Regions from separate parts of the Homo sapiens genome. Here all the other regions are linked to region 1. The links come from fine-mapping of genetic effects on gene expression. A gene starts in region 1. Each other region holds a variant in brackets. All regions are shown on one strand. Distances are from middle to middle. Region 1 holds the start of LINGO4 (leucine rich repeat and Ig domain containing 4). Region 2 holds the start of SELENBP1 (selenium binding protein 1). Region 3 overlaps POGZ (pogo transposable element derived with ZNF domain).

Region 1 (6,836 bases):
CCAGGGCCTGAGCCCTGGACTAACAAGATCCAATCTCCCCAAAATGCCTGTGTGGACAACTGCCAAGCTGTACATTAGCTGTGGCATAGGATGCAGGAGGCACTTGACTGGGAAGCTGGGAATCCCCTGCAAGAGCCCAGGGGCAACTGCTTCTCTACTGCAATTGAAGTTGGGGTGTGTGAGAGACCCAAAGGATGCCCAGGTTTTGAGTTCTGTTGCTTGGTCTTCAGTCTTGGGCTTCCCTCATATCCCTCCTTAATGGTGTTTGGATTCTGGTCCAGTGTGTGGATCTGAGGGAGAGCTCTTGTCCCTTTTGGCCTGAGCTGCCTGAGAAATTCCCAAGAGACAGATTGTGGACCAGGGAGCATAGATAAGTGAGGAGAGACAGCATCTGACCAAGTGCTGTAGGATGGGGAGGAAGGGAGCCGTTGGCTGGCACAGCAGGTATCTGGGCACAGACAGTGTGCAGAGCCTGTAGACTTATAGTCAGTTTCTGGGTACCAGGTTCCGGGAACCCTCAGGAAGATGGTGACTACAATGGCTGAGGTGACAGAGGAGAAGGGGCCCTCTAGGTGATGAGGGCCCCTGACTCATCCTGTTAGATGTCAACAGGGACCCCAAGGCAGAGGAAGTACTGGAATTGGCAAGGGATGGCTACAGAGATAGGAGCAAAAGCCCATGGATGCTCTCTGGGATACAGCGCGTCTGAGTCTCTGCTGAGCGGCAATCCTGATCACCTTTGGGCTTGTGGGCTTCAGGCTCTCTGGGCTCTACAGGGTCAGCTTTCTACTACATGCCCTGTTTTTTCTCATGTGGAACTTAGGAGAGGCAGTTTAAGAGATGGTCATTTCTTCCCCTTTCCTTCCCACTCTCCACCTCCTAGAAGGATCATTCTAGTGGCTATCCTACAGCCACTTGAGAGGATTGTCCTAGTTGGGAAACTAAAGAAAGAGGCCAAAAGAGCAGAGGGATGCAGAAAACTGGTGTGAGGCTTGGGGATGAAAAAGAATAACGTGGGGCAAAGACTGCAGAGCAGACTCTTCTCGCCCCAAACTGACCTAACAGGTCTCTGTGGCATGCCCAGAGCTCTCCCGGGAAAGATGGCCCAGCCTCCCTTGTTCTCCCTAGGCTTGTTCTGGGAAGTCCACCTGACAGCTAGCTCTTCATCACTACTGCTGCAGTTCCTGCCCATCCTCGCTCTGCATTCAGCAAAAGTGCAGTGAAGCATGTAACCCAGCTTTCTTCCTTCCTGCTCCTGTGAGTTTCCCCTGAGTCCGCTGGGCCAGGGGCTGAGGGAGCTGGAGCAACCTATTTTATTTCTAAGGTGGCTAATTTAATCACAAATTTCCCTTGCCAACCTCCATGGCTGCAGGACCGGCTTCCGGCCACTTTGCAGGAAGCGAGATGTCAGAACCACTTTTTTGTCCCTTCAGTGGGGTGGGGACATCACCAAGACATGACCCTTGAAGGCATCACCCCTCAAGGGTAGGGAGCCTTTTTCTTGTCTTTATGTGGCAGTCCAGAGACACTTTTGAACCTGGGTATCCTGTATCCTCTTTAAAGCACACCTGACTGACAAATGGGAACTGTGTGGGGAGAGGGTTCCTGGGGGAAAGATTTCTGGAAGATCCACACCGATTGTGGAGAAAAACCCTTCCAGAGGAAGGGGAAGCACTGGGGAGATGGAAGGGAGGTCTCCTTGGAGCCCTTCCACCCAGGGGTACTTGGGATATTTGAGTTTCCCCCTCAAAGTCCCATGGGGCCAGGATTAATTGTTAGCAGTGTGGGGGCCCAAACCCTCTTGCCTTGAGGGGCCTGTCTGGCCCCTAGTCTGGCCTGTCTCGGAGAATGTTATGGAAAAGGGCGGCTGCATCTTTGGGACAGAGAGTGGGGGCACTTACCGGAGAAGCTGGAAGGTGGCATCAAGTTTGGCACTGCATCTGTCCAGCGCTGGGGGCCCTGTCCCATTCGAGCTGCACCTCAGGCCCCTGCACCTTCCCTGTGTGCCTCAACCCCCGCTGCCTGGCTGCCCGGCTGCTGCCTGCCGCTGCTGCTGCTGCTGTTGCTGCTGCGGCCGCTGCTGCCAAGACTGAGGTGGAGAAAAGAGCCAGAAAGCATTTCTCCTTTTTTTTTTTCCTCTCTCTCTCTCTCTCTTTTTAAACCAGGCAAGAATGAGTCTGCAGCAACCCTGTTGGTGCAAAATAAATAAATAAAGCAACCAGGGAGGGCTGCAGCAAGCACCACTACAGGCTGGCAAGTGACAGGGGAGGGAGCCAGGAGGGAGGCTCTGGTGCCAGGGAGGGGTCATGCAATAGCAAGAACAGCAGGTTCTAGAGGATCTCTCTGACATCCTGATTCCCCCACTGGGGAGCTTGGGCCAGCCACCTTCCAGAGGACTGTCTTTTGGTCTCCCAGATGTGGAGCAATTCTGTGCAACCTCTAAATCTAAACGTTCCCCGTGGGTATCATTTATGGGAAGTTCTCAGTCTAGAGCATCTCCCGTGGGGCTCAGTTTGAGGCTCCTACAGTGGGGGTTCCTGAAGATTCGTTCACAGTCCTCACTGAGGGACTGCTCCACCTGGGGAGAAACTGCAGGGGTCGGGTGAGGGTGGGTTGGATCTGTATAATGCTGATGGATTGCTGAGCTGGAAACCTGAGTCTTGACCCAGGAATGAGACTGGAGAGCAGGCATGCAGGTAATCTAATTTAAGAATCTCCCCCACCCTCTGACACACACACTTCTTGCCTTTAAAATCATTTTATAAAGAATGGCACAAGTTGGGGTTTATGTTTACTCAGATGAACCCGTCCCCTTAGAGGACACAATCCCACCCCCAACCCCCCCAACTCCACGACTGCCCATCATTGCTGTTAATCCCTCAGGGGAGGGTTCACAGCTGTTTATGAAGCCAAGAGAGGTTCTGGGCAAGATCACAGCTGGGGAAACAGGCCCAGGCCCTGCTCCCTGGTGTCCTCCATGCTGGAGTCAGCGGTGCCCAATGACGGGGTGATGTGATCACATCTGCTTCCTTCTCCACAACAAGAGCAGGGCTGGCGGGCAGGCCAGGAAAGTCCTCCAGGATCTGATCTTGCCTTCCGACTGACCAGTGCGAGCGACTTCTGCTTCTCTTGGGTCTTCTAGTGGTAGAAGACAGCTGGAGCTGGGGTGGTATTTGGATCACCCCAGACCCAAGATCAGTGGACTGGAGCACCATGGAAATGTTTGGGAGGGTCCCTCAGGATTGGGACTTTCCCCTGAGGCCTCTAGGCTCCTCCAAGCTGTGGCCTCAAGGATAAGAGAGATTGTGTCAGGTTCATGTGTCTCTGGAACTGCATGATTGCTGTTGAGTCTGTATGTGTTTCACCTGTGTATGGATATGTGTCTCTGATCAGATTTGTGCCAGCCCCTAAAGTCTATCTTTAAAGTGCACATAAGAGGTTTGAGTTTTAACTCTATGTCTGAGATGCTCTTGGCCTTCATTGTACCCTAGTCCCACACCCAAATCCCATAAAACAATTATCTCCAGCCTCTCATCCTCATCCCATCCATTTTTGGTTAGACCCCAGGTAAAGGGTAGGGTGCCCAAATACTTCCTTGCTGAGCTGGGAGGAAGGCAGAGGCAGAAAATGTAAAGCTCCAGATTCATTTTATACAGGTCCTTCTGGGCTCTCACTGCCAGTCTCTGAGCTTGATCCATCTCCCCAAGCCGAAGCCCAAAGGGAAATGCAATGAGGTATTTCAAAGGCTTATTCTTAGCTTCTGAGCTTCTGAATGAATTGCATTCTATTCATCCAGGGAGCCCTGGATGCCCCTGTTTTCTTGAGGATGTCTTGGTCCCCCAGAAGTCCTTAAATCCCAGCCACCCCATGCCTTCCAGAAGCTGGGTGTGAAGGAATATGGGAAATGAGACAGGTCAAAGCTGAGGCTGGAGATGGTGTTCTGCCAGCCCCACCCTCTGGCGATTGTCCCACTGCCAGGCCGGCCTGCTGACAGAAAGCCAGCCGCAGCATCTGCTCACTTCCAAAGAGCTGGTGGGGACCACCCTCCAGGGTTCATGGGAAAGGAAAAGGGTGAGGGTGGAACGGGGTCCAGGGAGGTGGGCCAGCAGGCCATAGGGAGAGGCAAGGAGTCCCTCTTCCAGGTCACTTGGACAGCCCCACAGGTGACTCGGTTTCAGTGCTGAAGAGCTCCTTGTAGAGTGGAGGGAAAGCGGCTTGGACCACGATGGGGTGGAGGTGCTGGAAGATCTGCAGCCTTTCCACATGCTGGCTACACAGGCTCCGAAGCTTCCCCTTGGGTGGCAGCTGGATATGGGTTAATGGGGAAGGGAGGGTCAATACTTCAGCTCTCCTCAGAGCAAAGAAGTCCGCTCATTCTTCCTGGGCTAGGACAAACCCTCCTTGCCTTCCCCTTATGTACTTGGCACTTTGGCACCAGCCAAATCCCACTGGTAGAAGTACGTGTGTGTTCAGGACACTGGAGGGAAGTGAGAGTGGGTGGGGCACAGGTGAATGTTTTCTGGGTGAAGCCCTCAATTTATGTTCCCAATACTTCTAGAATGAACCTTGTCAAAGACTCTAATGTGCACTTCCTGCTTTTATAAGAGTGATTGTCTGTGACTCTTGTTGTATGCTGTCACATGCCTCTGCCTTTGTGCATGTTGTTCCCCTCTTCCCATTACTAATCCTTACCCTCTAGTGTCACCTCTCCTAAGACTATTTCCCTAACTGCCTCCCATCTGGATTAAGGGCCCTTCTTTTGGGCTTTCCTCTGTGTAGCACTTACTACATTGCAGGAAAATGGTCCAATTTGTCTGCCTTCCCACCCTAGATTTCAGCTCCTTGGCTGAGGTCTCTCTTTCCCTGTCTCCTCTGTACCTATCATAATGCTTAGCACATGGCACATGCTTAATAACTCTTTGAACTAAACAGACTTTCTAAGCAGGCACCTAACACTGCAAGTAGCAAACCAATGCTGCCAGCACTCAGCCAAAGGGGAGATGAAAAAGGCACAGAAACCAGTGAGCAGACGGAGGCAGGGAGACCTCACTGGAGCAAGGCTGAAAGAACAATTTATCTCTTGCAGTCTCCTCTACAACCAAGAGGCTTAAAAATGTCTCTTGCCTGCCATTGCCTCCCTCCCCCAGCTTAGTTTCCTTGGAAAGAGGCAGTCAGAGAAAAGCAGGCAGCAGGGTGTGATCCCTTCATATCTCCTAGATTCTCTCTCTTCCTCACCACTGCTTTATTCTGAGCTTTTTTGGGCTATGGCAATAGCTTCCTTCATTCATTCAACAAATATTTGTTGAGAACACATCTGGATCTGAGCTAGGCACTGTGATGGCCTCTAGTGATATATCAGATATATCAGTCAATAAAGTATAATCTGTACCTTGATTAAATTTACATTCTGGTGAGGGGCCCAGAAAATAAATATGTAGTGTATCAGATAATAAGTTCTTTAAAGAAAACTAAAGCTTTTTGTATGGGGTTACTGGTCAGGAAAAACCTCTCCCGAATGAAGAGATGGGGTAAGCCATTTGGAAAACTGGGGGAAGAACCCTCCAGGTGACTACAATAGCAGGTACAAAAGCCCTGCGACTGGGTTTGATGTGTTCGAGGAATAGCAAGGAAGCAAGTGTGGCTGCAATGGGTGTTTGAAGGGGCAGTGGAAGATCAAGTGAGAAAAGAAGGCAGGGATCATGTTATGAGCCACTTGACCATGACGCAGACTCTAGATTTGATTCTCGGCATCACAGGCAGCTACAGGAGGGCTGAGAACAGGAGTCAAGGCCAGGTGTGGTGGTTCACGCCTGTAATCCCAACACTTTGGGAGGCCAAGGTGGGCAGATCACCTGAGGTCAGGAGTTCGAGACCAGCCTGGCCAACATGGTGAAACCCTGTCTCTACTAAAAATACAAAAATTAGCCGGGCGTGTAATCCCTGTAATCCAAGCTACTCAGGAGGCTGAGGCAGGACAATCGCTTGAACCTGGGAGGTGGAGGTTGCAGTGAGCCGAGATCACACCACTGCACTCCAGCCTGGGCGACAGAGCAAGTCTGCCTCAAAACAAACAAACAGAACAAACAAACAACAACAACAAAAACAAGAAAAAAACCACAGGAGTAGGGCATGATGAGATTGCATTTTTAAAAGGGCTACCGTGGGTGCGGAGTAGGTGTGGTTGCTACAGGGCAGATGAGGGTGGAACAGGGGCTCAGTTAGGAGGCCTCTCTTAAAGTCCAAGTGAAAGCTGAGAGCTGGTAGGGGCCAGGGTGGTGGTAATAGTAGGGAAGGTGATGTATTTTGAAAGCAGATCCAACCGGATGTGCTTTCCAATTGCTCTCCCAGATTCCTGTCTCTCCTCCTTCAAATCCATCCTGTAGCAGATTAAAGTTCAAGTTCTTGAGAGCACAGACCGTGTAAGTCATTGCTGTATCCTTAACACCCAGCCCTGTGCCTGGCACATAGCAAAGGCCTGCTTGAATAATTACATAAATGGTTCCTTTATACTGGTTCCAAAGTAAATTGCCTAAATGACAGCTCTGATTGTGTCATTTTTCTAGCCTTTGGAGCTCCCTGTGGCCTAGAAATAAAGCTTTAACGCTTATATGGCATTGAAAGTCCTCTCTGATTTGCCCCTGACCTAATTTTCAGGCTGATCATCTGGTGCTCTTCTGCCCCACCAGTCTATCCCAGCTCCTGATTTTACACTTTAGTGAGGATGTACCATGAGTGATTCTCCACATACACACTATTTTGCCTCCTTATTTTTCTCCTGTTGTTCTTGGTCTTCATTGTACCCTAGTCCCACACCCAAATCCCATAAAACAATTATC
Region 2 (6,836 bases), 440 kb before region 1:
CACACCCAGCTAATTTGTGTATTTTTAGTGCAGAGTTGCCAGTGCCAACTCTGTATTATCAGCAGACAACACAGAGATGGGGTTTCACCATGTTGGCCAGGCTGGTTTGGAACTCCTGAGCTCAAGCGATCCGCTGGCCTCGGCCTCTTGAAGTGCTGGGATTAGAGGAGTGAGGCACAACACCTGGCCTGTTTTGACTATAACTTTGAACTGAATTCATCAGTGAAGACTCATCTTAATAGAAATATTCAAAACTGAAGTTACTTGCTAACATTTAAAATACTGGCTGGGATCCAGCTCACTGGTTCTCCTTGGGAAGTCATTCCAACCCTCCCCTTCCATTCTGCTCCTCCCACAGAAAAATGCTTCCCACATTTCACAGCTGTGGAAGTTTTCATGAGCACACAGTGCTGGCAGGTACCTTTGCCATTGCCCTTGACGTCTCCCAGGGAGCTGATCATCACTTCCCCGCTGGCCAGGCAGTGGCTGGTGTGGAGAAAGGCCAGTTCGCACTTGGCATGGATGTCCTTGGGCTCAATGACCTGGAAGGGGTGGGGAATGGTGTCAGAATCATACAGGACTGGGAGTCCCTGCTCTTAACCTCCATACTTCCCCTACTTCTATCTGCTGACTCTGTCATCTTTTCCTTCAAAACATGGACACAACTCTCCCTGTGGGAATATGACAAAGATTCAGTCTGGTAACTTCTACAGAGCAGCAAGGGAAAGTCAGAGAGATTGCTAATAACTCCCCAGGCAGAAAGCGCTGACCTTTCCCCATGTGTCCTGAAGGCACACGCAGCCCTGTGAAACCATAAGCTCCTCCCAGGCTGGCCTACACCAGTGTCAACTCTGTATTACCAGTAGACAACACAGTAAATGCCTGGCACCAAAAGTGCACTAAACAAAGTGTTGGGAGAGACCGGAATTTTTAAGAGAACCCTGAGCTCCTAACTGCATGGGGGAATAAATGGCTCCCTCCCTCTCTCAGAGTAAAACAAGAAGCCTTGTCCCTCTTCTCCCATGCCCTGGTCACCGTGCTGGAGGGTGATGACCCAGAATGCCTGGGTAGACTCTGCTCTGAGGTCCAACCTCCCTCCCTGCTGCCGAGCCAGTTGCCGCGTAAGAGCTGGAGGCTGCTGGTTTAGGTCTGGCTTCCTGCCCGTAGACTACCTGGGGTGGCAGGTGTCTTATGGTCTACTGAGCTGGCAAGGGCAGAGGACATGCCTTGTGCAGCTTTGGGGCCCGGGGCTCAGAGCCCACGTCCACCACATAGATGCGAGAGGAGATGAGACTGGGCAGCACCAGCTTGGTGCGCGACTTGGTGCTATCACCGAAGCAGCTGCTGCAGGTGTTCCATCCTGAGTGATGCAGCTCGTCCTTCAGGTTGGGCATGGGCAGCCGGTGGATGACCTAGGATGCGGGGAGAGGTGGTGCTCCCCCAGGCCACGCCTCTGTCCACTTTTGGAAGAGGCGCCCTGTGGACTCATTTTGGTTTGGAAGCACGGCACAGGCTGGATTTCAGCACTCCCCTTGTCCCAGGTTGAGCGTGCACAAGCATCCCCAGGGAGGGCCAAGAAGGATGGAGCTGGGAAGGGGGGGCCCAGGGCCAGGGATGAGGGCAGCTATGGTCTCAAAGTAGCTGGCGCCCAAGCCCCGCCTAACCTGGCAATACTGGGGAGACTTGGGGTCAACATCCACAGTGGCCAGATAATCTGGGGCCTCAGTGCCTGTGTTTCGGTAAATGCAGGGCAGGTAGACGATCTCTTCCCTGGGTCCTGCACGGTAGAAAGCAGGCAGCAGGGACGGCAGGGTGGGAAGGAAAGGTAGGGGAAGTGCTGGGTGTGCCAGAGGGTGGGGGCTAGGTCTGAAGTCCCTCCACCCCCAGCTGTGGAATCAGTAGTAGGGCGCTGGCTCTCAGACCATGGGCAATTACCTTTCATGGCCTCCAGAGGGGTGGAGTAGCCGGGTCCACAATTCCCACATTTCGTAGCTGTGGAAGCAATGGGGCGCATTGGCTGGGCCACGCTCTGGAGGGTGAAGGCTCCCTCCGCACGTTCTGCAGCACACATCCCAGCGGGCCACGGCAGTGCGGCTGGCCTAGGTCCCCACTCCAGCCTCATCGCTCTGGCCTGTCCTCTCCGCCCCCTCAGAGCCCTGAGGAGGGTGAGGTTGTGCTGGGAAGAGCTGGAGACACATGACCTGAAGGTGGACAGACAGTCCAGCAGGGCCCCGGGAGGGTGGGAGGAGGGCTGATGCAGCCGGGGTCGTGTGGTGTAGTGAATATGACACGGACTCGGGGCCCAACCCCAGCCCACCACTGACTAGCCAGGGGAGCTTGGGCAAAGTACTGAAGCTCCTCGACCTCAATTTCTGCATCCTCTGTAAAATGGAGATGGTAAGAATTTCACAGTGGGCTTTTACGAGAAGTAAACACGAGGGTGCAGTAGGTGTGCAGCTCTGTGTTTGTCTGGTCGAAGCCCAGGCACCCTTGGCTGTTCTTGAGGAGCTGCTCTCAGGGAGTGGGGTGGCGCCTGCTCAGCTCCCTTCACCAAGATGCTTCTATATCAGGGGGAGGCCACTTCCTGCTTTTCTCTCCCCTGGGTCCTGATCCCAGGCTGCTAGCCAAGGGCTGGATTACATAACCGAGGGTCTGGGGCTAATACCAACTGGAAGTCCTCAGGCTGGTTTCTACCCCTGGGTGTGCCCCACTTCCTTTATCTGTAAAGTAAGGTGTTTGGCCCAACTCTGGAGAGCCCAGAGGCCTGCCCACCAGAGAGATAGGGAGCAACCCTCCCTATCTCTGAAGTCTGGCAAGAGGGGCCATGCTAATCTCCAGGATGTAAGTCAGCAGATGTGCAGTAGGGCTGGGACATCACAGCTACCAGCACCCCAGCATCAGAGTTTGGGGCCTGCTGGGGAGCAGGGGTTAAAGAATACCCAGAGGGGGTGGCAGGCTGAAAGAAACCCTGGAGTGGAGTCCACAGGCCTGGGCCCTGTCTCCTGCCTTGTCCTGTGGCCAGTCCAGCCTCTGCCTTCACAGCTGGGCCGCAAGTGGGGAGCCAGGAGTAGGCAGAGTGGGGCCTCCACTGGGGCCTGGGACTCCCACTCGCAGCAGCCAAGAGACTTAGGAAGCTGAGAGGCAGCAACAGCGTTCAGAGTCTGGAAACCTGGTTTCAAGTCCCAGTTTTGA[C/G]GCCCCGTTTCTCCATTTTCTCCTCTTCATTTACGAAAAGTGGGCAATAATGATATTCTACCTACTTTGCTAGGTAGATATGGAGGACAAATAAGACAATGTATTCCAAAGGCCTTTCATAAAAATGAATTAGGCCGGGTGCGGTGGCTCATGCCTGTAATCCCAGCACTTTGGGAGGCTGAGGCGGAAAGATCACCTAAGGTCAGGAGTTTGAGACCAGCCTCACTAACATGGCAAAACCCTGTCTCTATTAAAAATACAAAAATTACCCTGTATTAAAAATTAGCCTGTATTAAAAAATACAGGCATACACCTGTAATCCCAGCTACTTGGGAGGCTGAGGCAGGAGAATCACTTGAACCTGGGAGGTGGAGGCTGCAGTAAGCCGAAATCACGCCACTGCAGTCACTCCAGCCTGGGCAACAAGAGTGAAATTCTGACTAAAAAAAAAAAAAAATAATGAATTACTGTGTAAATATGGGAAGGGCTGTGCCAGAGGAGAGGAGAATGCCAGGGAGTGCTCGATGCCCAGCGAGAGGGCTGGAGGTGGGGCAGGGAGAGAGAGAGAGGTCCAGTTCACAGGAGTTAAGGAGACTGGTTCTGTTACACAATCTTGCTAAGTCGGGGCTTGGCACCAGATGACAGGGGGTGGGGAAGGAGGTTGCTGGATACAGAAGGGAAAGGAGATTTTAAAACTCCAAGACCTCAAGACAGAGATACAAAAAATACAAAGCTAGGGAGAAGCTGAGAGGGAAGTAAAAGTGCAGAGATGGAGCTGCCCGCTCTGCAGCCTCGGCCCACCCCACACCCCAGCAACCCCAGCCCCAGCATTTCTTAGGGTCAGGCCTGGCATGCCACTGCAGCCCCAGGGAGCATCATTCCTCTTTCTGGGGAATACCCCCATCTGAAACATCTCAAGCAAGGTCTCGGAGCAGCTTTGGGTTTGGGATGGACTCATGGAAAGCTCAAGTGGGTTTTCCATGTCAGGCTGGCTGCTGGGCATTCTGCCAGCTCGGCATTCTGCCAGCTCAAGAGCCAGCCCCGAGCGGGGAAGGACCTCCCAACCAAACCTCAGTTCCTTCTTAGCCTGTCACCCAGAAGCCTACAGATGGAGGAATAGCAGGGCCAAGGGGGATTTAGGGGTGGGGGAGGCATTGAAACAGGTCCCCAGTGAAAGAGTGTGGGGGTCTCTGATTTCCCTCCCAGAGAGCTTTGCTGTGTGGAGTAGCTAGAGAGTGACCTGGGCACAGAAAGGCTTTGGACTCCCTACCTCGCTGGAGTACAAAGTTGGCCCATGGCTGAAATCAGGATCACCTCTCTACTATGTGAGGGCCAGGGACCTAGTGGTGTTTTCTAAGAGCGCCCATCTGATTTTCCCAGCTGCAGAAAGGCACCCTGGTCCCAGCCTCTGCTGGATGGAGCCAAGTCAGGGCCCAGGATCCCATCTCCCAGCAGTGCCTCTGCCCGTCTTCCTCAGAAAGTTTGGCTGAGCTGGGAAATGCAGTGGGGTGGTGGGGGAGGGGGTGTGCAGACTGGGGACAATGAAGCAGAGTCCACTACTCCCTCCCCAGCTCCCCACTCAGGTTTTCTAGCATTTTCTGGAGGAGGGCCTTCCAAATTAGGGGCAGACAGAGCAGGCAATGGGTGATTGGAAACCCCTCTCCTTACCCATGCTGCCGACTGGTACACTTTGATCCCGGCGGGTTTGCTGTGCTGGTGTCAGAGGCCGCTGTTCCGGGGAAGGAGCGAAGGGAGGGAATTTATACAACCAGCTGGGGGTGGGGCAGAGAAGGAGGAGGGCCCGGGCTGTAGCCCAGAGTAAACTACTCAGGGCAGCTGGCCAGGATACTCTCAAGTGGCCTAGGGCAACTGGTGTTTGAATTATGGGGTGTGCGTGTATGTGTTTAAGTGTGTATGTGTGGGAGCCTGTGCTTTATTTATTTATTTATTTATTTAGAGACAGGGTCTCACTCTTGCCCAGGCTGGAGTGCAGTGGTGCGATCTCGGCTCACTGCAACCTCTGCCTCCTGGGTTCAAGTGATTCTCCTGCCTCATCCTCCCGAGTAGCTGGGATTACAGGCACCCACCACCATGCCCAGCAATTTTGTATTTTTAGTAGAGAAGGGATTTCACCATGTTGGCCAGGCTGGTCTCAAACTCCTGACCTCAGGTGATCCACCCGTGTCGGCCTCCCAAAGTGCTGGGATCACAGGTGTGAGCCGCTGCCCCTGACCAGCTCGTGCTCTTTAGTGGGTGCCTGGGTGTGTGTGGATTTGTGTGTCTGGGCATGTGTGTGTTCCTGTATACCTGCGTGTTGCTCGTGCACGTGCCTGCATGAGTGTGTATCTGTGCCTGTGTGTGAATTTCCACGTGTGTGAATGTGCCTGTGAGTGTGCTTGTGTGTATTTGTGCGTGTGTGTGTGTGCGCGCCTCTGTATGTGCCTACCAGAGTATCTACGCCTGTGTGTGTGTGTGTGTGTGTGTGCGCGCCTCTGTGAGTATGTGCTTGCTAGAGTATCTACGCCTGTGTGGACATGTGCATAAGTGCTTGTGTATGTGTAGTGTGTGGCTATGTGGCTGTGCATGTGCTTGTGTAAGCCTGCGCACGTATGTGTTCCTGTGTCTCCAAATGCTCGTCTTTGTATTTGGACCTGTCTCTTAGCATTTAGGGGCACCCGGGACTGTGGGCCCATCAGCCAGGGTCACTTCTTCCCTAAGATTGCCCTCTTATTCCAGATATTCATACTCTTTGGATAAAAGCTCTGGGGTGAAGTTTTTATTGGCTAGGAAAAAGAATAAAGTCTGGGCTTGAGATTGCAAGTAGAATACAGGGTTTCCAAACCAGAGTGGGGGAAGGGGAGCAAAATTGGGCCTTGGTGCATTGGGTATCTGTCTTCCTGGCTCCCATCAGTGAGGGATCATGTGCCCATCAAGGAAGACTCCCTGTGGCTGCCCGGGGCAAGGGTCTTCTCTTATCCCCAGCGCCACTCAACCCCTCTTGGCTCCATCCTGCATCTATTATCCTCACCATTGTGCCATCAGCCTGCCAGGCATCAAAGAGAGTCTTGTGTGTGCAGCTGCCCCACGGGGAAGGCCCTGAAGGCTGCTTCCTTGTCTTTGCCAGCTTCCTCCTGTCCTGACTACCTCCACTCACCCTGCCTTCACCCTTCCCTCTGGCCCTCCCCTCTTCCTCCTCCTGAGGTCTCCATCTCCTGCCTCCTCTCTATTCTCCGGCTTCTTGGCTTGGGTTAGTCCACCACCCAAGATCTGAAAGAGAAAGAAACTTTATCCCCACCTTCTCATAAAAAATTATTGAGTCATTAACTTAAAAAAAAAAAGGCTGTTATTTTGTTTGTTGTGGTCTGTCATTGACTACCTCTTTCATGCTCCTGAGCTCTGACCTGGCTGGTCTCTGCAGCAACTCCATGGCACCCCTCACCTCTGCCTGTGGTTTTCTCCCTGAACTCTTGCTCTACAGCCAGCAGGTGGTTGGGGAAGTTATCCTAATCTGGGCTACAGAGGGAGGCAGTAAAGGTAGAGGGGCGATTCTCCTGCCTCAGCCTCCCGAGTAGCTGGGACTACAGGTGCCCACAACCATACCTGGCTCATTTTTGTATTTTTAGTAGAGACGGGGTTTCACCATG
Region 3 (6,642 bases), 400 kb before region 1:
AAGACCACAATGAAAAAAGTTTTTTATCCATATATATAATAAACCAGTTTGTGAGCTACATAATTTGTCTTTCCCATCTTCAGAAATGTTCTCACATTAACAATGATTAGATAGCATCATGCCCAAAGACATTGGCCACACAATAAAACAAACAAAAAAACCCAGTACTATGATACAATTGAGGTAAAAGGGGAAACAAAAAAATTTAACATTTGCCCACAAATAATTTTTTTTCTTTTTCTTAATTTTGTCAGAAAAATACCAAACACAGTGATTTAAATTTAAAAAAAAAAAAAGTCACAAAAACCTGTTTTTAGCAGAAGTGAATGACCAATGGGCCAGCTCCTTGGCTCAGACGTGATTACTATTGGTTTTCCTAATTAATCCACAAATCCACAGGGAAGTGTAAGTCAACTTCAGGGGGGAGTGGTGGTATAAAATTAAAAAATAGAAACCAAATACCCCACCTGGTATGCCCCCTTTTCCCTAAGCCCCTTTACCCTCCCTCACATGTTCCCACCCTCACTCCACACCCCCTCATGACCCCAACACTCAAATCTCCATCAGATCTAGGTCAGCTTCTTCAAAGCCATAGAAAGACTCGGTCTCACTTTCACCCTCAAAGAGCTGGTGAAGACTTTCAGGCTCAATTGTCTCTTCAGGAGATGATCTGGGTCGTGGAGTGGAAGACTCAGAATGTTCCCCACTCAGCTTCAGTTGCTCCTCTAGGGAGGCAATTAGCTCCTCCTGCATGTCAGCATTTCTTGTAGGTGAGTTAATGTTGCCATCGGGGCCAGGCAGAACACTAGCCACCAGGAAGGAGCGCTGAACTAGCTCTGGACAGTCCCCAATGACACCTAGCACTTCACCCAGCCAGACAAGCACCAGCTGAAGCAGGACATCAGAATCACATGCAGTATCTGCCATTTCCCGAGCCTGTTCCTTCCATTTTTTATGCAGGAAGTTCTTGACAGTTCTTTTGATGCATACATCTAATGGCTGAATTTTGGAGCTACAGCCTGCTGGGACCACTGCAGGCAAAGTGCTAGAGGCACTAAGCATAGCCAGTACCTCTTCTGACAAGTGAGTGCGATGACAGTCCATCACAAGCATGCCTTTGCTGCGCTGGCAAGCTGTGTGCTTCTGCCACACTCGAGTTGACCACAGCTCCATGATCTCGTCATCACTGTAGCCACTCTCCTTTGCCTCTAGCAATATGGAGTCTGGCATGTTAGCAGGCTGATCCATCTGCCCTCTGTAGAAAACCAGGGTGGGAAGGACAGTGCCATCTGCCAGAATGGCTAGGACTACATCACACCAAGGTTCCCCTGTGCCCACTGTCTGCAGGGCATTCTCCTTTCGATCATCACTGCTCAGCACCTCTGTATCCAGGAACAAAGAGATCTCATCAATAGCCACAATCATAGACAAGGGTAAGTCCTGGTTGTGAATCTGCCGTTGTACAAAATCAATGAAGAGTCCTGCATTCTCTGCTACATCCTTAGGTAGGGTGTGGGCCACAGCTCGCCGGGCATGGGGAGTCAGGTGGTGCCGCAGCATGAAACGCACAGCCCACTCATAGGAGATCTTAAACCCCCCTTCCAAAGAACGTCCTATTTTGGTGGCCTTCTGGAACAAGGTCTCCTCATTTACAGGTAGCTGTTGTTCGCGCTGGGTTAGCACCCACTCAGCCAGTTTCTCTTCTGCCTCAAAGCTCAGATATTTGCCCTCTAGATTCTCCCCCTGGGAGGCCTGGAAACGTCGAAGCCAACGGCGAATACGTCGCTGGGGATTTCGGAAGTGTTCAGCTGCCTGTTCTGTATTGCAGCATAGAGCAAACAGTACTACTCGAAGCTTCTTCACAGACAGCTGCTCCTTTTTGCCAACTCCACCACTACCACCACCACCTGATGCTAGCTCAGGTTCTTGGGTGACTGGGCTCCCTTCATCCTGATCATCAACATTCAGACATTCGGCTCCCTCTGTAGCCAGCGGTGGAAGGGCTAAAGCCTGCGGGTGAGTGGGGGTTGGTGGTGGGGTTGCAGTTGAGGCTGGTGATGGGAGTGCTGGGGCTAAGGGAGTTAGTAGCTCTTCAGGCTCAGCTGGGGTGGCCCCCGCAGATTTCACAGTGGCAGCTTTGTTAGTGGGGAAGGAAGGAGGAGGGTACATATTCTTCACGTTCCGGTCATGCACTCGGTCACGAGTCTGGCCATGCCTAAAGGGGTGAGGAGCAAAGAGAAGAGGAGAAATCTCAGTTCAACTAGGAAATTGAAACAATAATATGATAATAATAATAATAATAACAGAGTAAACACACTGCAAACCAGAAATTAAATTGTGAGGTGAGTTTTTGTTACCTTGAGTGAGCTATCCAAGTGAGTCCTATGGAAAATGAAACAACAAAAATAGTTAGCTCAGTGAAAAAATAAGCCCTCCAAAGACAGTGCCCTGGGATTCAACTTACTACATACAAATACGCTGTTCGCAGTGACCAGCTTTCCCAGTTTTATATAAACTTCAGGTCGGAAGGTTTCTAATTAGGTCCAGCACATCTCAACAGTGAATGAGTGAGGCCAAGTAGGTATGCTCCTGATGCATACAGTACGAACCTGTATCTTTTTTCCTCCCCTTGCTCAACTAATCCCCTTCTCTCCTACTTACCCCGTGGCAGGATGCTGCTGGATCTGTGAGAGGGGTTGAATACCAAATGCTTGGCCATAGCATCGCCCACAGAGGTAACAAAGGTACATGAAGTGCAGGCCAGCTTGATTCCACTAAAAAAGAGAATTGAGACTATGTAAGACAAACACAGCAGTGACACTTGAGACCATTAAGCTTTGAGGCTTAAGAAAGAAAAGGAATGCCCTCCCACTTTCTCCTTTTTCTGAAATTAATTCACATAACCACCTCTCCAAATAATGAAAAACCTGAAAATTAATGTAAAAACCTGAAAAATTAAGATGCTGCCAATAAGTTTTTTCTTACCTCACAGAATTTTTAAACAAAGCCAAATACTTGGGGCTCTTCCGTGGAACATGATTGCTGAGAAAGACAAAGAAGTGGTATGAGTTACGGAGTTCTGCTGGCTAAGC[T/C]AGAGATCACCAGCCAGTGACAATGCCCCCAACAAAAGAGACACTTCTTCAGTGCACCCTAATCTCAACCTAAGCCAGTTTTCCTGTCACCATGCTTCTTAAACTTTAATATGCATACAAGTCACTGAGGATCTATTAAAATTCACATTCTGGTTCAGTAGGCCTAGGGCGGGGCTGAGAGTCAGCATTTCTAACAAGCTCCCACCTAATACTACTGGTACTTGAATAGCAAGGCCCTATGAAATTAGAGCACAGACCATCAAAACCGAAAAAACAGAGCCTCTCACTCTGCTAGGAGAGAAGAACAAATAGCTCTAAGAGTTGAAGGAGGAAACATATTAGAAGCAGGGGAGAAAATGAAATGAGTGCTCAAGAATCTGGCTGGGGCCGGGCGCAGTGGCTCATGTCTGTAATCCCAGCACTTTAGGGAGGCCGAGGCAGGTGGATCACCTGAGCTCAGGAGTTTGAGACCAGCCTGGCCAACAAGGTGAAACCCCGTCTCTACTAAAAATACAAAAAAATCAGCCAGGCATGGTGGTGCACACCTATAATCCCAGCTACTTGGGAGGCTGAGACAGGAGAATCACTTGAACCCAGGAGGCAGAGGTTGCAGTGAGCCAAGATCATGCTATTGCACTCCAGCCTAGGGGACAGAGTGAGACCCTGTCTTCAAAAAAAAAAAAAAAAAAAGAAGAAGAAGAAGAAGAAAAAAAGAATCTGAACTCTCAAGCTAAAACACTGGTTAAAAACCAACTTACTTGATCATGTGGTTGGCATAAGCTCGAGAACAGCAGGTGCTATAGCGACACAGAGAGCAGTGTACGTAAGTAGGGAAATGATTAGGGAAGTCTGGGATCTCGAAGCTGCACTCCAGGCATGTCTGCCGGCCCATGACACTCCTGTGGGGGAAAAAAAAAAAGAATTCTCATTACTGCCTCATGGGTCCCCAAAATGTAGGATTTTCAGACAACAAACCCTGCTAAAAAGCTACCAGATTGCACTGTGTATCAGGAATAATCCTGGCCACCCAGTCCCCACCCGCCCAGCACTTAGAAGAAGGCGCTGACATTTTCCTAACAGCTCTCTTCTGGATGCTGCGCTGGACAGGGGGATAAAGGAAGACAGGCAGAGGGTCCATTGAGGAGGTCAGCGGTGCTGCCTCCTGCAAGGCGCTGGGAGGTGTATCATTAGAGGATACAGGAACAGTTCGTGGCTGCCCTCGGGAAGCCCGGATTGTCACCTGAGAACCAAGGGAAGTAACAATGAGACATCACCCACACTAAATTTCAGAATACTGAAAATCTCTATTCCTCCCTCCCTGGGCCTATAAAAGACACTGGCAAACTCTTTACCTTGGTGCCTGGTTTCAAGCCCTCCAGCTGCTTGGGTTTACGGAAGGTTTTATGGTGTTGAAGCTTGTGTTCAATTTTGTCCTTGGCAAAGAGAAACTGCAGCCGGCATTTGTTGCAGTGATAAACATTTCTCTTCTGAAGTGGGGGAGGGAAAAAAAGAGACAAAATCCCTTAAAGGTTCCTAATAAATTTTCTTTTTTGAGGAGAAAGCAGATCAATGTCAACCATATCATTCTTCCCACCTTTCTGTTGATAATTTAAGAGAGTAAGAAAGAAATATGCAACATGACCACAAAACCTACCATTGAGAATCATCACCTCCCATGATATCAAAGAAAGATGGATTCTAGTCCAGGATGACTAAGTTCTCAAATCATCCTTTCCTGACTTGTTTTAACAATTTGAATGAGTGATGTAACCTTTATTTGTATTATATCTTTACACTGCTGACAACTGGACATTCTTCTGGACATTCTTCATTCTTCTTTTTTTAAAAAAGGACAATGTACATAGTAAACTAAAGTCATACTTTTTTTTCTATACTCTTCCAACTTTGCTTTCAACTCCAACACTCAGTCCCCTTCCATACAAACAACTTATTACCAGTTTCCTGAGTATGCTTTCGTGGGCAGTCTACACATATAACTGTATCACAAATACATTCATATCCAATCATTACCTGCCTCGCCCCCTTTTTTTGAGACAGGGTCTCTCTCTGTAGCCCAGGCTGGAGTGCAGTGGCATGTTCATAGCTCACTGCACGTCCCAAGTAGCTGGGACTACAGGCACGTGCCACCACGCCCGGCTACTTTTTGTATTTTTTTGTAGAGACGGGGTGTCACCATGTTGCCCAGGCTGGTCTTCAACTCCTGGGTTCAAGTGATCTACCTGCCTTGGCCTCCCAAAGTGTTGGGATTACAGGCGTGCATCACTGTGCCTGGCCCTTACTTTTTTCCCTTTCCTTTTTGTAGAGATGTTGTCTCACCATGTTGCCCAGGCTGGACTCCACCTCCTGGGCTCAAGTGATCCTCCCACCTCAGCCCTCTTCTTTTTCTCCTTTTAACACAAATGATAGCACTTGTCTATACCTTGCTGTTTTCTCACTTAACACATCAGTATATACAGATATGTCTCCTGGTGAGACCACTTTGAGGATTCAGTCTGCCTAGTATTGAAGTCCTTCAAAAATAGAACCCATGTCTATGATTTTCTTTAGTAGGATAACAAAGCTCTGTAAGCTTAGGCTAAGAGACAATTTCCATGCCCCTATTTGGAAATACAGTTGTGGTAGACAATCAGCAGTCACTACTGTGCAAAGGAGACTATGAGTGTAATAGGGTACATATGTTTGTGTGCATATGTATGTGACTATTAAGCACACATGCACTCATCTTATTCTCCATTTTGAATCCTCTCTTATATACTATATACCTTTCACTCTCCTCTAGTGGCTCTCTTCTTGTAGTATTTTAAAACGAAGTCATAGCTTTTCATCTTATAAGGAAAATAAAAGCAATAAAAAACTCTTCTTTGCCACTTCTTCCTCTGGATTTACCTACCCTGGGTCCTCCCTTTTTATAAATAAACTTCTTTAAATACATCGTCTTCATTTCCTTACCTCTCATTCATTTGTTCTGCTGAAATGTGACTTCCACCCTACCAACCAACAAAATGGCTCTCATCAATGTTGCTAAATTAAAGGCCTGTTTCTAAGTCTCTATGTTGCTTGACACCTTCCTGTAACATATGACATTTTGATCACACCCTTTTCTTTAAAACACTTTCTTCTCCCCAGTTTCCTTAAGGTTAAGACTCTTCTGGTTTTCCTCCTAGTACTATGGTGGTTGCTTTATAGATAAGGGACTTCAAATATCCTAAGCCTTCTCTTATTCTCAACAGGGTTGGGGGGCCCATGGTATTTAAGTTTAAAATCTATAGGATTTATATAACGCTGATTCCTAAATCTTTTCTACAACCCAGAGTTCTCTCACAGGCTTGAGATCTATTATCCAACAGCTACACTTGACATCCACAGATACTGCTAACTTACAATATCCAAGCTCATGATCTCCCCCCTCACAAATATACTTTCTCTATTGTTTCTATTTCAGCAAATAGTTCCCTCATTCACCCAACTGCCCAAGACAGAATCTTAGGCACTATTCTTAACTACTGCATTGCTACCTTCACCTAATCCA

What was found. PIP is the estimated chance that this variant, and not a neighbour inherited with it, causes the effect.
Region 2: its variant is the best candidate, but not a certain one, in a credible set for the expression of LINGO4 in whole blood (TOPMed, PIP 0.78).
Region 3: its variant is the best candidate, but not a certain one, in a credible set for the expression of LINGO4 in lung (TOPMed, PIP 0.81).

The regions. Positions count from the first base shown.
Region 1 is chr1:151,803,329-151,810,164 of GRCh38, forward strand. LINGO4 (leucine rich repeat and Ig domain containing 4) reads right to left here and starts at 2,091. Exons shown (of 2, transcript NM_001004432.4): 1 at 1,902-2,091. It overlaps RORC (RAR related orphan receptor C), which reads right to left. Exons shown (of 11, transcript NM_005060.4): 11 at 2,743-4,305. The coding sequence ends at 4,144. RefSeq lists an enhancer at 5,518-6,018.
Region 2 is chr1:151,367,778-151,374,613 of GRCh38, forward strand. It overlaps SELENBP1 (selenium binding protein 1), which reads right to left and starts at 4,928. Exons shown (of 12, transcript NM_003944.4): 1 at 4,861-4,928; 2 at 1,936-1,992; 3 at 1,665-1,777; 4 at 1,227-1,412; 5 at 422-542. The coding sequence starts at 4,864. RefSeq lists enhancers at 2,193-2,864, 2,865-3,535, 4,282-4,865, 4,866-5,449. The variant C/G (reference allele first, on the strand shown) is at 3,193.
Region 3 is chr1:151,404,250-151,410,891 of GRCh38, forward strand. It overlaps POGZ (pogo transposable element derived with ZNF domain), which reads right to left. Exons shown (of 19, transcript NM_015100.4): 13 at 4,445-4,579; 14 at 4,160-4,332; 15 at 3,851-3,991; 16 at 2,986-3,042; 17 at 2,662-2,774; 18 at 2,358-2,382; 19 at 1-2,215. The coding sequence ends at 553. Among named protein-coding and RNA genes, the nearest start is that of PSMB4, 8.0 kb to the left of the region's middle. The variant T/C (reference allele first, on the strand shown) is at 3,093.